Linked DNA regions of Homo sapiens: region 2 is reported to be linked to region 1. Evidence: microRNA targets listed by miRTarBase, many of them from high-throughput screens and not tested one by one. Region 1 holds a microRNA gene; the other region holds the end of a gene's coding sequence.
Evidence for each region. Region 1 holds the annotated microRNA hsa-miR-3620-3p (UCACCCUGCAUCCCGCACCCAG, at 1,791-1,812, opposite strand). A microRNA usually pairs through its seed, bases 2 to 8, with sites in the 3' UTR of a target mRNA and lowers its output. Matches are read on the target gene's strand: a 7mer-m8 pairs with bases 2 to 8, a 7mer-A1 pairs with bases 2 to 7 and ends in A, and an 8mer does both.

Region 2: the mRNA of SYNPO is a reported target of hsa-miR-3620-3p. Seed matches in the 3' UTR shown: 7mer-m8 at 1,487-1,493 and 7mer-m8 at 1,992-1,998.

Annotation. Positions count from the first base shown.
Region 1 is chr1:228,095,712-228,099,131 of GRCh38, reverse strand. MIR3620 (microRNA 3620) reads right to left here and starts at 1,869; the gene lies at 1,791-1,869. It overlaps ARF1 (ARF GTPase 1), which reads right to left. Exons shown (of 5, transcript NM_001658.4): 2 at 1,870-2,054; 3 at 1,680-1,790; 4 at 1,417-1,541; 5 at 1-1,280. The coding sequence starts at 2,017. The coding sequence ends at 1,119. RefSeq lists enhancers at 697-1,896, 983-1,952, 1,953-2,922.
Region 2 is chr5:150,656,786-150,659,785 of GRCh38, forward strand. SYNPO (synaptopodin) reads left to right here. Exons shown (of 3, transcript NM_007286.6): 3 at 1-2,422. The coding sequence ends at 302. Among named protein-coding and RNA genes, the nearest start is that of MYOZ3, 3.0 kb to the right of the region's middle. RefSeq lists a silencer at 1-16.

The sequences.
Region 1 (3,420 bases):
AAACAGTTGATTACTAATCGTGTATTGAAAGCAGTAAGAGGTTCCACGACACCAAATAGACCAGTTCTGAGGTTTCCCCAAGATAAATTTAACAGCTCCAGCTTCAGTGTTTATCAAAATACAAAAGAAAAAAGTAGAGGTTGTCTTTTTCGATGGCAAATCGGACCCTTGCAGGCTGAGGGAGAGAAAGCTACATCACACACAGAGGTGGGGTGCTCCCGAGGGGCTGTGGGTCTAGGTGGACCGCCTGCCCGGCTTGCACGCGCTCCTGCTGGTGAGGCCCCAGACATCCTGCCAAAGTGTCTGAGCGAGCACGAGTGTTGGGGACGACGGACCCACTCTGGCCACACGGCGACCGAGGGACAGATGGGGCCCTGCGTCCCATAGGCTGCCTGAAGGTGGGTAGGGCGGCCTGCGGCATAGTGGGGTGGCTGTGGGCTCCCAGCCTGGCCCCTGGGAACCGTGGGAGCACAGGGACAAGCACATGGCTATGGAATGCAGGGTGACCCAAGGACAAGCGAGTTGCGGGGATCTCTACTGTGACCATGCAGAATTGATCGCAGTCTGCTGCGCCACCACCACCTCATGTTCCCGAGGGGAACAGCTGGGCTGGCGACTGGCATCCAGGCCGTAACTGCAAATCTATGCTAGGCGGGGTCTCCCTTCTGTGTGTTCAAGTGTTCTCGACTTGGATTCTTAACTATTTTAAAAAATGCACTGAGTTTGGGTTAAAAACCAACCACCAAAATGGATTTCAACACAGCTCTAAAGCCAAGGGCGTGGCCGGCTCTCCCAACACAGCGACTCCTGGAGGCCAGGTGCCCATGGGCCTACATCCCCTCTCAGCACTGAACAGTGAGTTGATTTTTCTTTTTACAATAAAAAAAGCTGAGTAATATTGCATAGGAGTACCAGAAACTGCCTCATTGGAAACAAAAACTATTTACATTAAATAAAAAGCCTGGCCGCAGGCTGCGTCTGCCACATTTACAGCACGGTGCGATGCACACGGTGACCAAACCACGGAGGCAGCTTCTGGCACTCACACCACGAGCCGCACGTTTGCCACATGAGAGTAAAGCAGAGGGCAAGAGGAGTGAGAGGGAGGGGGGTCGCGTTCACTTCTGGTTCCGGAGCTGATTGGACAGCCAGTCCAGTCCTTCATAGAGCCCGTCGCCGCTGGTGGCGCAGGTGGCCTGAATGTACCAGTTCCTGTGGCGTAGTGAGTGCAGCCCCAGCTTGTCTGTGATCTCGGCCGCATTCATGGCGTTGGGGAGGTCCTGGGGGAAGGAAGGGTTGGTGGGAAGGGCTGTCCACAGGACAGAGAAAGGGGCCCCACCAGCCTCCAGTAACCCCTACCACCAGGCGGAACCCACACTGGCTCCTCACATTCCCCAGGCTGGCCCGGGCGCCTACCTGCTTGTTGGCGAACACCAGGAGGACAGCATCCCGGAGCTCGTCCTCGGCCAGCATCCTCATGAGCTCCTCACGGGCCTCGTTCACACGCTCTCTGTCATTGCTGTCCACCACGAAGATCAGGCCTGCCGGGCAGCCAGTGTCAAATGGTCATGGGAACACAGCCCCCCTGCCGCATCTATGGGCATCGATGCCCCATCTATGGGCTGGCCCCCCCTCTCTAGAAGCAGGAGTGCCCATGGGACCAGGCCCCAGCCACTTACCTTGTGTGTTCTGGAAGTAGTGGCGCCACAGGGGCCGGATCTTGTCCTGGCCACCCACGTCCCACACAGTGAAGCTGATGTTCTTGTACTCCACGGTTTCCACGTTGAAGCCTGGGTGCGGGATGCAGGGTGAGGCCTTGTACCTTGGCCCAGCCCAGCCCAGCCCACTCCCTGCTGGCCCCCACCTCACCTATGGTGGGAATGGTGGTCACGATCTCACCCAGCTTAAGCTTGTAGAGGATCGTGGTCTTCCCTGCAGCATCCAGGCCCACCATGAGGATGCGCATTTCTTTTTTGCCAAAAAGGCCCTTGAAGAGGTTGGCGAAGATGTTCCCCATGCTTGTGGACAGGTGGAAGGACACTGGCCAGGGACACCTGGAGAGACAAGGTGCTCCATGTCTGGTTCTGTGCTGCCCAGCAGTGGTTGCTCAGAACCCACCCACCCAGGGATGCACCACTGCCTCACCCCACCTCCTGGAAGCCTGCAGGGAAACAGGGAAAGAGCCCTGCCTCCCATGCCCCCCAAATCCACCTCAGGATGGGGGCTGAGGGAAAATGGCTGAGTCAGGAATTGAGAAACTGTTGCCCTCATCTTGGGAAGCTGTCCCCACAGCTGCATGGCCAGAAAGGCTGCCTCATCCCAGCCTATGCAGGAGGGGAGGCTGGCTGCCTGAGGACTGGCTTCCAGGTGCGTGCAAGGCTCCTCTACACCCCAACACAGAACCTTCCAGGGCCAGAGAGCACCACTCACTGTGCCTGCCCACACTCACAAGGACCAGAGCACACAGGGCCACGCCAGACTCAGCAGGACACCTTCAGGGACACACTCCCATGAGGACACAGCCTCGATGGGGCACGCCCGCCATGTCTGCCCCACACCGCAAGGGTAGGGGTTCCCTCAGCAGAACACAAATATCGGGGACAGCAATTAAGTCAGCTGGCACCCACCATCAGAGCCCTGCGGAGACTCCAGCAGGAAGGGCCTCCACTGCCCAGACGCCTCTGTGAGGACACTGAAGTTGTTAGGCTTTGGCCTCACTGGCCAGTGGGCAATTTCACGAATCAGGTGATTTTATCCCGAACAGGGACTTTAGAAAACACTGGTCACTTTCTGAAACAATGACTGCTTCTTCACTGCACCCGCAAGCGGGGCTTACCCCGAGTGAGGAAGGCTTCTGCCTTCAAGAGGACATGCCAGGAGCCTGTGAGCACACCCACCCCTCATCAGACCTCCTCCACCAGGGGTTCCACACACAGGTGGCTTTTGGCTGAATCACAGCCATGACTGTCCGCTGGTGACTCTCTCATCCAGTCACCCCAGCACGCTACGGCAAGGAAATGCCTCTTCTCCATTTCTCAACATCAGCAAGAGCCCACACATGCCTGTGTGTTTCAGTGGGTGTGAACTGGCCGCCCGTGTCTGATTTAACACTGCCATCATCCCAGATGAGCCACAGAACCCCTTCAAGCTGGATCAGTGTCCTTTGGACACTTTGCTCTTGGTTTTGAACATGTCACCTATTCTGAAATTTAAATGAGTTCTGAAATTTATAAGGACCTTCACTGTAGTGTTCCCTTTTTGGGGACGGCCAGGTTTTCTAAGCCCAGAGGAAGACCACCACCCATGGAGCACAGAAGAGACTGAATACCTGCCCTCTCAGTCCACTCCTGCAACCACTACCAATGAAGACACCAAAATGACACACACGCCTTGAAGGGCAGAGAGAAAAGGGAGGAAGAC
Region 2 (3,000 bases), not on the chromosome of region 1:
CGCCACAGCCCGCCCGCCCCGGCTCGGCTGCTGTGCCGGGGGCAGCCTTCGCGCCCATCCCGCGGAGCCCGTTGCCCGCCGGTCCTTCGTCCTGCACCAGTCCCCGGAGCCCGCTGCCCGCGCCTCCCAGGCCCTTCCTCTACCGCCGCTCGCCCACGGACTCCGACGTGTCCCTCGACTCCGAGGACTCCGGGGCTAAGTCTCCAGGCATCCTGGGCTACAATATCTGTCCCCGCGGGTGGAATGGCAGCCTTCGGCTCAAGCGTGGCAGCCTCCCCGCCGAGGCCTCCTGCACCACCTAGAGCCCCACCCCCGACCCCACCCCGGGAGGGCAGAGCCAGAAGAAGGCTCATTAGACCTGGGGGACCCAAAGGGTCTGGCCTCTTTGGGCAGCCCCAGAGATGAGGGGTCAGCAGAGGAGAGCTCTGGGGTTGGGGATGGGTTAGGGACGCAAGCTTGAGTTCTAGCCCTTGCTCTCATTCAGCTGTTGTGTGACCCTGGGTAAGACCCTTCCTTGTTTGACCCTCAGCTTTCCCATCTGTTTAATGGTGGCTTTGGCCAAGGCAATCCACAAACGTCAAAATTCCCCTTCCCATCAGTACACACACCGATGCACACACACTCTCTCTTTCTCTCTCTCTCTCTCTCACACACACACACACACACACACACACACACACACACACACACACTAGTTAGTGCCTTGGATGAGGCGGGGCAGTGTGTATATGGACCCCTGGACTTGCTACCTTCAGGGTTCCATACTCGTCCCTCCCCTCCTGGCTCTGCTGTCTGGAGTCTGGCAAGCGGGGTGTGTTCAGAAGGTCCTAGGCCTGTGTCGCATGTCCAGGCACTGGCCTGACCATCCGGCTCCCTGGCACCAAGTCCCAGGCAGGAGCAGCTGTTTTCCATCCCTTCCCAGACAAGCTCTATTTTTATCACAATGACCTTTAGAGAGGTCTCCCAGGCCAGCTCAAGGTGTCCCACTATCCCCTCTGGAGGGAAGAGGCAGGAAAATTCTCCCCGGGTCCCTGTCATGCTACTTTCTCCATCCCAGTTCAGACTGTCCAGGACATCTTATCTGCAGCCATAAGAGAATTATAAGGCAGTGATTTCCCTTAGGCCCAGGACTTGGGCCTCCAGCTCATCTGTTCCTTCTGGGCCCATTCATGGCAGGTTCTGGGCTCAAAGCTGAACTGGGGAGAGAAGAGATACAGAGCTACCATGTGACTTTACCTGATTGCCCTCAGTTTGGGGTTGCTTATTGGGAAAGAGAGAGACAAAGAGTTACTTGTTACGGGAAATATGAAAAGCATGGCCAGGATGCATAGAGGAGATTCTAGCAGGGGACAGGATTGGCTCAGATGACCCCTGAGGGCTCTTCCAGTCTTGAAATGCATTCCATGATATTAGGAAGTCGGGGGTGGGTGGTGGTGGTGGGCTAGTTGGGCTTGAATTTAGGGGCCGATGAGCTTGGGTACGTGAGCAGGGTGTTAAGTTAGGGTCTGCCTGTATTTCTGGTCCCCTTGGAAATGTCCCCTTCTTCAGTGTCAGACCTCAGTCCCAGTGTCCATATCGTGCCCAGAAAAGTAGACATTATCCTGCCCCATCCCTTCCCCAGTGCACTCTGACCTAGCTAGTGCCTGGTGCCCAGTGACCTGGGGGAGCCTGGCTGCAGGCCCTCACTGGTTCCCTAAACCTTGGTGGCTGTGATTCAGGTCCCCAGGGGGGACTCAGGGAGGAATATGGCTGAGTTCTGTAGTTTCCAGAGTTGGCTGGTAGAGCCTTCTAGAGGTTCAGAATATTAGCTTCAGGATCAGCTGGGGGTATGGAATTGGCTGAGGATCAAACGTATGTAGGTGAAAGGATACCAGGATGTTGCTAAAGGTGAGGGACAGTTTGGGTTTGGGACTTACCGGGGTGATGTTAGATCTGGAACCCCCAAGTGAGGCTGGAGGGAGTTAAGGTCAGTATGGAAGATAGGGTTGGGACAGGGTGCTTTGGAATGAAAGAGTGACCTTAGAGGGCTCCTTGGGCCTCAGGAATGCTCCTGCTGCTGTGAAGATGAGAAGGTGCTCTTACTCAGTTAATGATGAGTGACTATATTTACCAAAGCCCCTACCTGCTGCTGGGTCCCTTGTAGCACAGGAGACTGGGGCTAAGGGCCCCTCCCAGGGAAGGGACACCATCAGGCCTCTGGCTGAGGCAGTAGCATAGAGGATCCATTTCTACCTGCATTTCCCAGAGGACTAGCAGGAGGCAGCCTTGAGAAACCGGCAGTTCCCAAGCCAGCGCCTGGCTGTTCTCTCATTGTCACTGCCCTCTCCCCAACCTCTCCTCTAACCCACTAGAGATTGCCTGTGTCCTGCCTCTTGCCTCTTGTAGAATGCAGCTCTGGCCCTCAATAAATGCTTCCTGCATTCTTCTGCCTCCTGTGTCATTTTCAGCTGTGTCTGATGTCCTTCCCTTCTCCCCAAGCATGGAGCAGTCCATGGGACTCTGGGTGGCTGGGAATATTTGAGACATATGGGATGGGAGCTTGGGAAGAAGCAGCCATGGGGAGAGATGGGAACAACGGACAACTTGAGGCCATAGAAGTACCTGGACTGCAGTCCTGGTCCTGTCATGGACGAGCGGGGTGACCCTGGGTGAGCCCACTCCTTCTCTAGGCCTCAGCTTCCCCATCCGTATAATGGGGAGAGTGGGTCTAGGTAATGTCTCAGGGTGGTATTGTCCAGGCCCTGACCACAGAGCACTATCACCAGAGTGGGCAGGGCCAAGCTGGGTCAGGGCTCTGTGCTCTGAGGCTGTTTCCTCATGGCAGGTGGGGGTGCCAGGGCAGGAAAGGCGCCACTGTAAGAGGTCCCGTCTGAGCCAGGCAGCCCCAGTGAGGCAAGGACTCGGGCCATGAGGCATCCTCTCCTGGCAGGAGTGTCCTTTGGCCAGAGAAGGGGATTGTGATCCTGCTCCCAGGTGAGGCTAAGCTTGCCCTGGGAACAC